Homo sapiens: one gene and its partner. The protein of the gene in region 1 purifies or fractionates together with the protein of each later gene. This does not show direct contact. Each region holds a gene or a part of one and is shown in the gene's direction. Other genes may lie near its edges.

The links.
Region 2: the proteins of FHL1 (region 1) and RBPJ purify together in Homo sapiens (affinity purification with western blotting; 4 studies listed by BioGRID and IntAct, with this or other methods). This does not show direct contact.

The regions. Positions count from the first base shown.
Region 1 is NC_000023.11:136,192,032-136,200,049, forward strand, and holds the start of FHL1 (four and a half LIM domains protein 1), read left to right. Parts: upstream 1-5,015; 5' UTR 5,016-5,081; coding exon 5,082-5,103; intron 5,104-8,018.
Region 2 is NC_000004.12:26,414,991-26,422,014, forward strand, and holds part of RBPJ (recombining binding protein suppressor of hairless), read left to right. Parts: intron 1-484; coding exon 485-650; intron 651-5,560; coding exon 5,561-5,735; intron 5,736-7,024. UniProt on the Homo sapiens protein: Transcriptional regulator that plays a central role in Notch signaling, a signaling pathway involved in cell-cell communication that regulates a broad spectrum of cell-fate determinations.

The DNA.
Region 1 (8,018 bases):
ATTTTAACATCTAAAATGTGACAAAGATTTATCCTTACCAGCTTCTCAGTTTCCTGAAACATTTATTTTCCTTTGATTTTAGATTCTGTATTTATGTTATATATCTCTTTCTAAAACATTTTCTTGTTTCTGTTTTCTTTACTTCTTTTACTTTTTTGCCACTTCTGTTTTTTGAAAAATATCATCCTAGGCATGCTCTGAAAGTCATTTGTTCGGTGTTTTCCTGATAGTGATTTCTGGTTATAGGCCCATAAAGTATCTGTAGGATGTGGTTAGGATAGTTCCTACCTCTTGGTAAAAGTCTAGTAGTAACACAGGAAGGGCACAGACTTTGGGGACAAGAGACATTTAAAACTGTTACTGATCATGACATTACCAAAAATCAAAAGACAGGGGCCATGGCTCATGCTTCGTAATCTCTCTGTGAATATTATAAGGAAAATTCTAAGCCCTGGTCAACTGTGAAATGAACAGGTCTTCAGTGGAGTTAATTAGCATTTTCCAGGTGCTTTGCTGTTTACAGTGTCCTTTATTTCATGTATCTTCTCATTTGTTACAGGTCTTCTTTCATACCTTTTCCTTTTCTCTGAGATTCAGAGACCCTTTGGGGAGGCTGAATTTCAGGTTTGTTTTCATTAGGACCTTACATGACCAAATCCCCCCTCTTGGGGTTCCAGGGGTGCTCCTTCATTTTACTCTCTGATGGGTATGCCATGAATTGTGACATTTAAGCAGTGACTTTGCAAAATTGGACGTGTCAGTAGGAAAAAGTACTCTTCCCACCTTAAAGATTGACAGGAACATGAGATGGCTGAAGCTGTTCTGAGCTTTTTTCTGGCAAGAGTACATAGGACAAGAAATACTCTGGAGAGCTCAACATTGAATCACATCATATCATAGTGCATGACTAGTTGCCTTAATCTTGCAGTTGGACTCACTCAGGAGAAATTGTTGGCAGAGGGATTAAGTAGCCTGACAAAATTATATTGAGAAAAAAACTTGCAGTCTATTAATTTATTAGTAGTAGATATGAGGGAAAGAAGAGTCATGTAAAAAAAAAAAAAAACAACTGGACATGAAACCACGGAGAAATCCACAAAGACTCCATTACAGTTTGTTATCAGCCTCTTGCCCCTGGCCATGACTAATGGCCAGTAATTGTCTGAATAAGTTTTTAACCATTTGGAAATTTCTTCAGGAAAAGAAAAATCTAGTAAAGGGAGAAGGGTGACCACAAGTCAAGCTGTGAATGAGGAAGTCCTGAAATGTGGGCTAAGTGGGTCACTGAATTTGCCGTGTTTGATTCTTCGGTTGCACCACTTTGAACTTTTGAAGTTTGATCCTCCCAGTGGTGTTTCTGAGGTAGAGAGGCTAGGATTAGATTGCAGTGTGAGAAATCCCACAAACGTGATTCTACTGTAATCTTACTGTTCTCTCTCGCTCCTTGATAACTGGGATCCCATTAAAGGGGGTTCATTATTGACATCTCAGAAGAAACTCATTGTGAAGTCTAAAATAAAGTGCCATTCTTCCCTACACCAGCTCTGCCTCCCATATTCCCCATTATTTTCCCAGTCACCCAGAGTCACAACCTCAGAGAGATCCTTGGCTCCTTCCCCTTCTTTCAGTTCTTGTAGCCCTGTCACAGTGTCCCTTATATCTAGTTTTTCCTTTCCATGCCCATTGCCCCTGCCTCTCATTCTTTCAGTCTTTCCTTGCATCTCAGTGGACAATTGCATTACCCTGTGCTGTCTTCCCTGCCTCCTCTCTTCTCTGAGATCTGCTCTTCTTATCACTGCTTGCATGACTCCATCTCATTCTCCCCTTGCACCAGTTGCAGAAAGATCCTCCGTGTGTGGCTTTCCCTCCTCTCTAGCTTTCGGTCCTACTACTTCCTTATCTTGTGCTTCTGTCACACCCCAACCCCCCCCAGCTGCATCCTGCTTCTTGAACACGTCCTGTGTTTTTCTCATACCTTAGGTGACATGGTACCATTTTCTTGGAACACTCCCTCCCCCTTGTCTGCATGCCAAAGTCTTAATCATTCTTCAGGGACCAGGTCAAATGCCGTGACATCCATCAAGTCTTTTCTCATCTCCAAACCAGATGTGATCTCTCCCTGTGATAAATGTCAGTAACACTTTATACCTTTCTTGTAATACTTGTAAGGCTCTGCCTTGCATAGTAGTCATTTGCATATTTATCTTGTTACACTTGAAAGTAAGGACTGTATTTTATTCTTTGTGACCAGTAAAATACCTTGCACCACATAGTAGGGCATCTGTCCAATAAATGCTTGTCATATACAATAAAGCAATGGCTGGGGCGGCATTATCTACAGGTTAACCCAATAATAGGTCATAATGTATCTGCAGATAGTAGGACCATAAGGATGTGTAGATAAACCCTGAAGTAAATGATTCGCAGAGGGTCACATGGAAGGGAAACAGGGAGTTTGATACCTAGCACTCACTGAAAAAAGCGTCCGGATACTGCTAGAGTGTGAGACTAGAAGGCCTGAAATGTAACCATCATACACCAAAGAGAGTTGCTCCCAAACACCAGCCAACTCCACCAATAGTATATAAAGGTGCGTTGTAAACAGTACAGTGATTCTTAAAGATATTATTAAACATCATACTGTTAATATATAACAAGATTGACTAATATGCCAATGAAACCCGTGACTCCAGGTACCTGTGAAATAGCCAGCAAGGGTTCTGAGCCACTGATCCAAGACAGGACAAAGTTACCAACTATTCTTCCTAAGAAATTGTTTCTCATCATGCAAGGGGCTGTTTCTGTCTTGGTTTTGTGGAAGGTCTAATTCTGTGGCTTGAGGACATCTGCAGTAGGGCCAGATGTCAGAGCAGGTAGTGGTCATGCTTCATGAAGTTTTTAGGAGGGCACAGTTACCTGGTTGATGCAAATGGAAGTAACTGGAATAAATGCTATTGTTGCAGGCCCAAGCTCCCAGTCCATCCTGGCTGGTCATAGTTGACTAATTCATGGTGGTCAAAAAGTGATTCTCTTGTCTTTGAATTTTCTCTTGTATTTTAGGCAAAACAGATTTGTTTTTTGATACTTTCATAAAGCTGTCTATCCATATTCTGTTGTCACTTTTCAAAATGATCAGAAACCTAAAGAACTACCATACTTGCCTAAAAGAAGACACTTCCTGATGCATAGCTTGAAACAGGAATTGACTTCCTAAAGGAAAGTATTTGGCACACCAAGCCTATTGTTCACAGCGCTGCAAGAGAGGCATTTCAACATACATGGGCTCTTCCTAAAAATATAACTTGCTAAAATAAAAAATTCAGGGTTCATTAAGGTTAATCATCTAATAAAGTAAGAGAATTTCCTCTAGGTGAAAAGTTTCAGTTTATTTTAGGGGTGTGGTGTTGTTACAACTGGCTAATCTCCGCACCATAATTTAATCAGGCTGGATGAGAAAGAGACTAGAAAGGCGTGGAGCCAGAGCACAGTGTAGCTTCTCTTCTTTTCCCAGGCTTATTTTTTTCCTCTAACATGTAATAAATTTACTCGTAACAACCTGGCTTTTATTGTGTCATTTTCTAGCTAACTGGGAGTTACTGATGTCAGTTGTCTTTTAGAATAACTTTTCCTTAAACATTTGAAGATCGTAAGAATTGGGGAACTCATTCATTCATTTATTCATGGAGCATTTACTGCTCACCTACTGTGTGCTATAGGAACATGAAGACAAGCAAAGCACTGCCCTGGCCCTCAACCTGGTAGGGGAGATGTGTGAATAGGGCCAAAACCACTTAAACAAGACAGTGGCTATAAAGGTGTCTGTACCAGCGAGAAGGTCAGCTGCCTTCCTTGAAGTTGAGTGGCCAAAACCACTTTCAGGATTGCAGGTGGGACTATGTTTTGGAGGCTTGATGGATTTTTCAGTTATTTAGTTCATTCTTTCAAGGAATAGTTATTGAGAGCCTCCTGGGAGCTGGGCAGTGTTCTAGGCTCTGGGGCCACTGCAGTGAGCTCCAGTACTAAATCCCTGCCTTCATGGAGCAAAGCAGGAGATCAGACAGCAAGGAGAGAAATCAGTGCAATACCAGCAGACTTGAAGTAGGGAAAGGAACAACCATGACTCTGGGCACAGGGGACAGTGAGGAGGCCAGTGAGGTGGGAGTGAGGGAAAGGGGGCTAAGGGTAAGGCCAGAGAAGGAATGTGGAAGAAGGTCCTGGAGGGACTTGGGGGCTTTCTTTTCCTAGAACATGCTCCTAATAGCCAGCCCCCAGACATCTGATGGCCTGTTGAGCTATTACAACATTTTAGGTTGATGTCTTCATTTTCATTCATGTTTTTCCTTTTATTGTCCCTGATGCTGAAAAACAAGAGGTTGAGTTTGTGAGACAAAATGTCTTCATTGTGTGTGTGATGGGGATAGGCATAGTCTCCCCATCTTGTTCTGTGCTGTCTGCCGTTAAGGAGGTGGGGAGATTACGATCACTCTCCTTTCCTGTACAGTAATCTGCTGATCTCTGGAACATACTAAGGAGGACATAGAGTGACAACATCTATAATCCCCTTAATCTCTATATTCATACTGTCTAATCTCCTTGAGTTACACTGGTAACATAAGTCTATCTCTTAGAGTTACTTTTATCATTAACAGCACAAAAATGTATTATTTACAGGGCCAAATGCAAGCTCTTGAGGCATATAAAGTGGATTAATAAGGTTGGCTCAGCGTTAAGCTATGCCAGAGCCGAGTCCAAATTTTATTCCGGTACAGGGATGACTTTCTATGTGGCCTCTCTGGCTCTGGAGCTAATTTGGATGCTGAGTAGCCCCGCAGGTATTTATATGTAGCGTTTGGTATTTTTACTGGGTCCTATTCTTCTCCCTTGGATCACCTAAAATGGTTAAGAATTTTCTAGTGGGATTAAGGTTGTGATCTCTGGGGAGGGGTGGGACATCTGCTCTCGGTTATTTTTGTGTTAGCCGCTTCCCCTTAAATGTATGTTCACAAATGAGCCACAGCCTTATCAGCTGGGGTTGAGGGAAGACTGGTCTAGGTGCTGCTCCTGAACTTGGTCTCTGAGCCATGGCTTCCCATAGACACTCAGGTAAAACTTCATGCTCTTTATCTTATATTGAGCACAGTTTTGTTAGGGCAGTGAATCCGTCATTGGGCTAAAAGATGGTTTTTGATGAAATGATTTTAGTCTTGTCTGAATAGTAAATAAATTATAGCTTGTCTCTGTTTTGCCTTTGCCTTTCATGCTATTTCAAAGACAAAATATTGTTCAAGTACAATGAACAGTTTGAGTGATTTATTTTAAAAAGAAGTATATAAACATGTTACCACTATATTTTTACCTTTTTCAGGACATCTCATGAAACTATAAGAGATTGTGGGAGGAAAGGTTTTTCTGGTTAGGAATTTTTGGCTTTCTTTTTTATAAGATACAATTCTTCATCTTGACAGTGCTTTACATCCAAGGTGTTTGGAGAAGGTAAATCGAATGTGGAGCTGAAAGGAGGAACATTTGTAACTAAGAAAGTCCATAATGACCTAGCACATCTTCCCTTTTGCTGACAATGTTTTAAATCTTCCCGAAGTAACAGCTATGTTCCTTTTGATATGCTAAGTATGTTATTAATTGTTTTTAGCAGAAAAAGGGGCACATTTTGGACTCCTTGGGACATGAGCATTTTCTTCTGGTTTTGTAACCTTACAATTAAGGAAGCCCTTTGGCCATCGACAAGAAATCTATGAACTAGGGGCTGAGGGGCCAAAAGCCCAGTTATTTGAAGCCAGGAGGGTGGCTGTGGCCCTGTGGCCCTCTGCCTAAGTAACGGTTCCCTTTCTTGGGGCTGGTAAAGTCAGACGGTTAGATATAAAGAAGGCACTTCATCCTGTCTCCCAGCTTTCAGATTAAGGGATGTCATTATCTATGTTTTTTTTTTTTTTTGAAAAATCATTTTTTAAAACTCATTGCCTGTCAATATTTAAACAATGGAAATACTTTAGGAAATTTCTCTTTTTGGGGTTTTAAATATGCTGCAATGGAATGCCCTACCTTAATGAATTAATATGTAATGTCTTCCCTGTTCCCAAGTGTTCAAAAGTTGTCTGGTTTTTTTTTTTTTCCAACCCTCAGGAGCTGTTTCACAAACATGGTACCAAATGCTTGAGATTGTGGTTATCAGCCAAGATACACATTCTCTGGGTGTAGGCAAACTAGTCAGCTGTGCTAGTTGTCCTGATGAACCTTAAATGCATGTTACCTGGTAGAATAACTCTCATTTTGTTTACTAATTAAGTGACAGAATAGTGACAGAAAGTTTAAAAGTTTAAATAGTGACAGAAAGTTTATAGCATACCCAACCTTGGGTTTTAAATTGCACCAAATTCTTATGTCGTTCTTGTGTATGTAAGTCTGGAGGCTCTAATAACTGTGGCTAAATGGGACCAATTATTTATACCTTTTAGATGATTTTTGAATTCAGGAAATTGCATTTTGTATTGCATTAGGTTAATAGATTCATGAAAGCAGAGAAGAATCAGTCCATGAGACAGAGAAGTCCTCATAGAAAATCAGTGTTGCCCTGAAACGGGCTCAGTATGGGCAAAATAGAAGCTAGGATAATTGGATCCAAATCCATTTTTAGTGACTATCCATATACTGAGAGGACATTTCAAGGACAAAAACAATGTATACTCTTGACATTGAAGACTTTCTGTCTGCAAAATTATGTAGATTCAATTTCTTTAGCCTTTGGCCTTTCAAGTCGAAAACCAGGTTTGGGGTGTGGAGGGGGATCAGGTCACTTGCCATATTACACAGCCATCGATTCCCTTCACCAGCTGCTGCTCAGTGGGCCGCACAAGCCCGCCAGTCTTTTCTCAGGGCAGGGATGGAAAATGAGAGGGTAGGATGAGAGGAAAGTAATCCAACTGGATTGGCTTCTTAAAATACAGAAGATTTGAGTGAGAGTGAAACTGAACATTTTGTGCTTTTGATGACCACCAAATGACTACCTACTACTTCACCACAGCTGGAGAAACTAAAAACACATGCTCTTTTGCTGCCGGGTCAGAAATGCTTTTTTTCCCATATGAAAGAGGGGCTGTGTTGCACGTAATCTGTGCAACATTATGAAAAATCTTCATATACAGACAAAATGGTACTAGAATTGAATCTGGACTGCAGGAAGTTCAGTGGCACATAATTTTTCTTTTAATAATCTATATCGAACCCTCCTGACACCCGATATAATCTAAAATGGCATTAGTTATACATCAGTGACCCAAAAAAGATTTGTTTTTTTTCTAAATGCAGCATACCAGTGAAGTTGCTAATTACATTGAATCATTCTGTACACGTTCTATTTTGAAGGGAAAAAACACTTTCTGATTTTTGTATGAAATTGTATGAAAGACTACTTTTCAGCCGTGACTCATGAGCTCCGTCTCATTGCAGCTACTTAGGTATTTATTCCCAAATGTCTGACGACACCTCCAGGTGCATTAGCATGTCTATTACACAAGTGTCCTATTCATTGGCTAAGGCTTTGCTCCATCTGTTGAATGTTCTGAGGAAAGCATTATACCCTTTCTTTAGAAGCCAGTGTTTATATGTGGAGTCACTAATGTACTGGTAGGTTGGATTTAGTGAAGAACAGATCTGAAATAACCTGATTTTTTTCCATTTGGGTTGTTGTTCATTGTTTACACTGTACATTACACCCTTCATGGAAAACACATAGAAAAATGCTACCTACTCATGATATTCACATTCTCCTTAAATATTCATAGTTTGAGCAACTCAGGCATGAGGGAGAAGATGAACAATAGGAAGAAATACATGAGAAAATACATGTAAAAACACAAGCAAGATTTATTAAATACAAATCGACTGTAATGAGAGGTTTATAGTAAAAAAGAAAAAAGAAAAAAACAAATGTTGTAATGTTATATTACTTGTATGTGTACATGATTAAATTGAAAGCCAAAACTTTTAATTAAGATACTGAG
Region 2 (7,024 bases), on another chromosome or scaffold:
GGACAATGCTCTAACACAATTTTCCAGGTTAATTACCACATTAAGTTAAATGCAGTATCCATAATAGTAATGTCACTCATTAATGATTGTGTCATTTTGAATAGGCCTTAATTAGTAATTACAGATTTTTGTGGTGGTTTATCGTGTTTTGTAATATGTTAGAGTACACTGGATTTGCTGAACTCTGGTAATTTAGAACTCTGAGCCATACAAAGAGAAGTTCTGTACTCTAAAAAGTATTTAATCTAACTGTATGCATAACTCCAATATTTTGCCTGAACAGATTTAGTCATTGTGGAAGTCCCGATTTCTGTCCTGTGGGCATGATTATTTGCATTACAAAAGGCTTCACCAAAATTTTTCATTGGGGAATAGGTGCATTTCAATATGATTTTGTATTCATAATGTTCAAGGAAAGGAAATGCTTTATTGAATCTAATTGATTTTTGCTTCTTGTTTTTTTTTTTCCCCTATTATTCTTCAGGTTTTTTTGCCCACCTCCTTGTGTATATCTTATGGGCAGTGGATGGAAGAAAAAAAAAGAACAAATGGAACGCGATGGTTGTTCTGAACAAGAGTCTCAACCGTGTGCATTTATTGGGATAGGAAATAGTGACCAAGAAATGCAGCAGCTAAACTTGGAAGGAAAGGTAAATCAAGACTGCTAGTTCACCAGAAAGGGGCACCATGGTACCAGAATGTAGTTTTCATATTCATTTTTGTGGTGGAGATTTTTTTCTTTAATAACTATTGGTAACAATTTCTTGAATATATAAACTAGGACCAAAAAACATGCCTCTCATAGCTTTGGTCTAGTCACTCATGAAGCTTACGCTGCTGACATTGGAAGGTGGCATGCAGTAAGCTTCCCCAGCTTGCAAGCAGTTTTAGCAGACTATAAATCAGATTTCTATTGGAAGCCAGTAATAAATTTAGGAGGCTGATTGCTCATCTTCTGTTTGACAGAGGTTTATCAACAAAAATACATTGTTCAGTAATGTTTTACTCTGCTATTTTAATCTTAGTTTTATACTAGACACGATGATATATACATTGTGGAAAGCATTTATCTGGGTTATAACGATCATAAACGTTTACTTGACATCAGAGTGAAGCAGAGTGATACTGTAGACAAGAACAGCCACAGTTGGCTTTACTCAAATTTTAGTGCGTGGCAGGGGTTCTTCAATTAATTTTCTAGAGAAAACAATCTATCAGCTAGTTTTACTGATTATATTGTATGAATTTAGAAAGCAGTCAATCTAGATCTTTTTTTTTCTTCCCCCGGGACAGGGTTTTTACTCTGTCACCCATGCAGAAATGCAATAGTGCAATCTTGGCTGACTGCAACCTCCACCTCACAAGTAGCGGGACCATAGGTGTGTGTCACTATGTCCAGCTAACTTTTTTGTATTTTTTTGTAGAGATGGGGTTTCGCCATGTTACCTAGGCTGGTCTTGAACTCCTGAGCTCAAGCAATCCATCCACCTCAGCCTCCCAAAGTGCTGGGATTACGGGTGTGTGCCACCGTGTCCAGCCAATCTATACTTTTAGTATTGAAAGATAGTTTTTTATTCACTTAGAATTTAGCTATGGTTTTATTTTTCCTTGCTACTGTACTTTGGAAAATGGTTAGTTCTGATCTCAATGACTAAACATCTTCTAAAATAGCGCATAAACAGCTGTTTCATTATTTGATACATCCTTGTTGAATATTTTAGTGTTTGCTATGTTGTAGTTGGCACTAGGTATATGGGTTGGGAGTAGTGTTGGTGGAGGTGAGCTAGGGGATTTGTACTCTCAAATTGAATTTTAGTGATTTTACAGATAGTACTACAGGTCTTAATGTCAACCTCCTTCAAATTTAGCTGTTTGTATGTCATTTATATCTTTATAGTTTTTGTAAGTAAGATTTGTTGACTATGTATTTTAAATTAGATTTGGGATAATACTTATTACAATAAAGATTGTTTCATCTTAAACCACTAAAACTATTTCTAAATTATGATCCCTGAGCTAAAGTAACGAATATATTTAAGTGGTGGGTTGATCTAATAGATCTTAAGTCTTGTCTCATCTGTTTTCTTGTTACCTAGGAAGTCTCAGAGTTATATGTCTCCAGGCTTCACATGTAGACATTCAGTACTATGAATGAGTGGATCAGATAGGTAGTGAGAAGCCAGGGATTCTAGCTACCTGTGTGTATAACTGTTTAATCCTACTTCATTGCTCATTTTAACCAGTTCCAGCTTCCAGTAATTTTAAATGAGGTGATACCAAATAAACCAACCAGTAGTATCACTGCTTGCCTTTCGCAGCATTGTGGCTTAGTAGTGCCACATCCTAATTTTGTACCTTTAGGGGCTGCCTCAACATGGAGATCTTTCTGCTGTTTTTCATTATATCTTTCTTCAACTTCCACTAGTATACCCTTTCCCCAAGGCCTAGAAACTGGCAGAAGAGGAATAGAATACCTGAGAGCTTGAGCATTTAACTAGTATTTAAAATACCTAGTAATAGGTTAGTACAATGTCTGTAAGCCAAAATTATATGTTAATATTTAATTTTAAGGAAAAATTCTATTAGGGAAGTTTATGTAAAGCAAGACTGGTGAGAGTTAGTAGAAGGCATCCCAGGCAGAAAAAAAAACAATATAATCATGTGCTTAGAGCATAAAGGTATAAGAACATGGTTTTGACCAAGGTAGGCAAAGATGTCCTGAGCAGCGGATTCTGAGCTTCAGTGAGAGGCACTTTGCTCTTGTCTGCCTCACTTAAACTCCATTCGTGTAAGGAAATAGTCTGTTCATTGAGTGGTACAATTAGTTATTGAGAAATATGGGATATTCATTTTGCAATTTTTGGTGTTTATACTTATTTTAAATATTCACTGCAACAAAATTCTAGTATATCTAGCCCTTTAAATTTATGGTCATGACATTTGGCTGTATGTAGGTAATATGTTGGATCTTAGATTTTGTGTAATGTTTTTAATTTGTTAAAAAAATTTACATTTTTTATAGTCACAGCTAGGTAAGCTACGCAACAAGGATGACTTAGTTAACACTCTTGTGTTTTTCTTATTTTTAAACATCATATACTCTTGGTAACATTTTGTTTCTATAATTTAAACATTTCTGCAGTATCACTTTGCAGCATTAGATTTGGTATTTCTTCTTTCTTTCAGGGAAATGTCTTTTATTGCCTAAAGATCTTGTTTTCAAAGAGTATTTCTAGAGAGATGATTATATGCCATTTTCTCTTCTAGAATTCCGTTAGCTAATTTAACCTTTTGCAATAGCAAGGCAAATGTAATTTTAGTTTTATTTGCTTATTTTCTATGAGTCAGTGACTTTTTCCTTCTTTTCTTAATGGAATTTGAGTAGTTTGTGGTCAGTGGCCTTATAGTTTTTTAAAACTAATAGTTCCCATAAAATTATCTTGATTATGATTTTTGTGGATTCAAACTACTCATTGTAATTAGGGATATATTTCCTTTCTTTCCAAGGAGATATATGTGTGTTTGTTTTTTCCGAACAAAATGCAGTTCTTTTTGTGTAGGTCTTATGATCCAACCTTCTTGGTTCTTTTTTTCCGTTCTTGTTTGCCAATATGTCTTATTTATGCTGGATTTCAGTATTTTCTCTTTCTGATATGGATCTTACCTTTTAATTTTAACACTCAAAAGCCATCTCAACATTTTTAAGCTTTCCCATTAGAATGTAATTACCTTCATTTAGATATAAATTTCATTTTTGCTTCCCATGACTGTCTGCTTTAGTACATTGATACCCATTTTCATAGACCTCGTCTTATGTTGCAGAAGAATTTCATTGTTTAGGCTTAATTTGACCTTCAATGCTGTCTGTCACTTTTAAGAGTATGGCCGACCTATGGGTATAGCAGCTCACAGATGCCATCTCTGAGTGCGTTAGAGATCTTGGGTGCAAGGAGTGATGTGACTGCAAAGTACTGTTGTTTTTTGTTTCTTTATCTTTATTCATTTTGAGACAGGGTGCCACCGTGCCGCCCAGGCTGGAGTGCGGTGGTGGGATCACGGCCCATTACAACCTCTGCCTCCTGGGCTCAAGCGACCGTCCCACCTCAGCCTCCTGAGTAGCTGGGACTACAGGCATGCACCACCATGCCTGGATAATTTTTGTGTTTTTCGTAGAGATGGGGTTTCACCATGTTGCTCAGGCTGGTCTCAAACTTCTGGACTTAAGCAGTCTGTCCACCTTGGCCTCCCAAAGTGCTGAGATTACAGGCATGAGCCACCACCCTGGCCTGTTTTTATTTATTACTATGATTGGCTTTATCTTATTTTTGCCTTCTACAGAGCAAAACCTCTCAAAGCTTTTACCAAACTTTTGATTTTTAAAAACTTAGTTAAATGTATAATGTTCAAGATGGCATCTAAATTTTCTTATATAGCTTTGCTATGAGAAATACAATAAACTATTGCAGTAGTTTTGTCTGCTACCGAGGCTGTCTGTGAATAAAATTTTAAAGATAAAAACCTAGAAGTCATTAACTGTTTCCTGAGTAGCATTTGCTCTGCTTTTTAAAAGGAAGATACAGGAGAGGCAGTTGAAGAAACTTGTTTAGCTTAATTTTAAAGTGGAATGTTGATCCTTTAAAAAATATAATTCGATACTTTAGATACTTATGCTGTGTTTCAGCATCATTTATCTTATCTGGAAAAGGACAATAATTTAGACCCCTCCCTGATTCACAGGGATCAAGAGAATAGGAAAGATTTTAGAATTGTTATATATAATATAAGCAGTAGCATTTTGAAGGGTCTTTGCTGTTTGTAAAGTGCTATATCTCTTTATCTTTTCAGTTATCAGAATTTAAATTCTGGTAAACTGACATAATGCCTTGAGCATTTTCTCTAGTACCTTTAAATTCAGTTCTTCTGGTGATACATATGAATCGTCCTTTTGGGCAAAGTTAACCATTTTAAAAATAGTTCTTTAAAGTAATGCTTATATAATCTCTTTCTGGTTTAAGATATTTTATAATCATCCAGTTTGTCTATCATTGTTTTCCTCAATCTTATAAGTGATTACTCTAGTGTTCAGCTATATAAAGAAAAATATTTTATGCACTATTTTGAGAAGAACTACTGCTAAAATCTTTTACATAATTTCTTGAATTCTGATAGCTTTATTATTATTTTTTTTTTGGAGAAAGTCATTGATTTTTTTTAACTGTAAAATTTATTTTAAAAGTTACTGCTGTAACGTTGAGTGATAATTCCATGATACAGTTGTAGAGCTATGTAAAACAAGAAAAGGCTGTTTTTTTAAATGGTCTTTTAAAGAGGATACAATAGATGACAATGTTTGTGTTCTACAGACTTTATAAGGAAGACTTTGTACTTTTCCGAAATCAATTTCAGTAATTTTTATAGTTGATAATTTTTAGAGTTGGTTTTATCAGCTATCCCTTGGAATTGTTTTACTTATTACTTAAACCATGGCCATTCTGAGTTTTAGGTACTACATAAACAAACAAGGTTTTGCTGCTGTTAAAACTTTACTTTTCTTTCACAGAACTATTGCACAGCCAAAACATTGTATATATCTGACTCAGACAAGCGAAAGCACTTCATGTTGTCTGTAAAGATGTTCTATGGCAACAGTGATGACATTGGTGTGTTCCTCAGCAAGCGGATAAAAGTCATCTCCAAACCTTCCAAAAAGAAGCAGTCATTGAAAAATGCTGACTGTATGTATGCTTTTCTTATTTATCCCCAACTGCCACCATGAATTAATAAGACAGACTCTTTTTTAAATTAAAAATTGCCTTTTCAATAGCCAATTAATTCTTTACTAATATTTTTGTGGCCCTCTTTATTGTCTCTCTTTTTTTAATCGTAAATCGACAGTATGTGGTCTAATGAAGCAGTTCTTAACCAGAGTTGGTTCCTTAATGCTCCCAGGGACATTCTGGGGAAATGGGAGATTTTCTCCTTCTGTTGTTACAGTGACTGGAGGGGGTGATGTTGGCTTTGGGTGTCTTGAGCCTGTGGTGCTGAATTGAATGTCCTGCAGTGTCCAAGGTAGTTCCCATTCCACAAAGAATTGATCTACCCACAATGTCAACAAGTACCCCTTTGAAAAACGCTACCAACTAAATGGGCTTTGGCAGGCCTTCCTGAGAATCTAAACACAATTTTTAATGTGGTTGCTCTGGCAGAGACTGCTGTCTCATCAGCCTATTTTTAGACTACCAAACAAGTATGTTTGAATTATAAATTTAACCTCCACACCCATTTTTCTTTTTTTAACTTTTTATTATGGAGACTTTTCTTTTTTTTTTTGAGATGGACTCTTACTCTGTCGCCCAGGCTGGAGTGCAGTGGCAGGATCTCAGCTCACTGCAACCTCCACCTCCCGGGTTCAACCAATCCTCCCTGCCTCAGCCTCCTGAGTAGCTGGGATTACAGGTGCCCACCATCACGCCCGGCTGATTTTGTATTTTTTAGTAGAGATGAGGTTTCGCCATTTGGCCAGGCTGGTCTTGAACTCCTGACCTCAGGTGATCCACCCACCTCGACCTCCCAAAGTGTTGGGATTGCAGGCGTGAGCCACCATGCCTGGCTGAGACTTTCAAATTTATATAAAAGGGAGAAATTAGCCACCCAGCCTCAACAGGTTTTATCAATTCTGTTTCATTATCTCCATCACCACCAACACCTCTTCGTCTTCTAATTGCTGGAGTATTTTAATGTAAATCTCATCCTATCCTTTCAACCAAAATTTCTGCAATAGTGACTAATACATGCCCTTTTTTTTGAAACATCATTATACGTAACAGTTGACAGCAGCTCTTAAGTGTCATCTAATATCCTATTTCATGTACAGATTTATCAGATTGACCCAGAATGTCTTTTTATAGTTTTTTTGCTTTGTTTTGTTTTACAGTGGTTTGTTCAAACATGGATTCAGATAAGGTCCACACATTTTAGTCTGTAATAGTTTCTTCTCACCCTCTCTCACCTTTGTTTTCCTTCT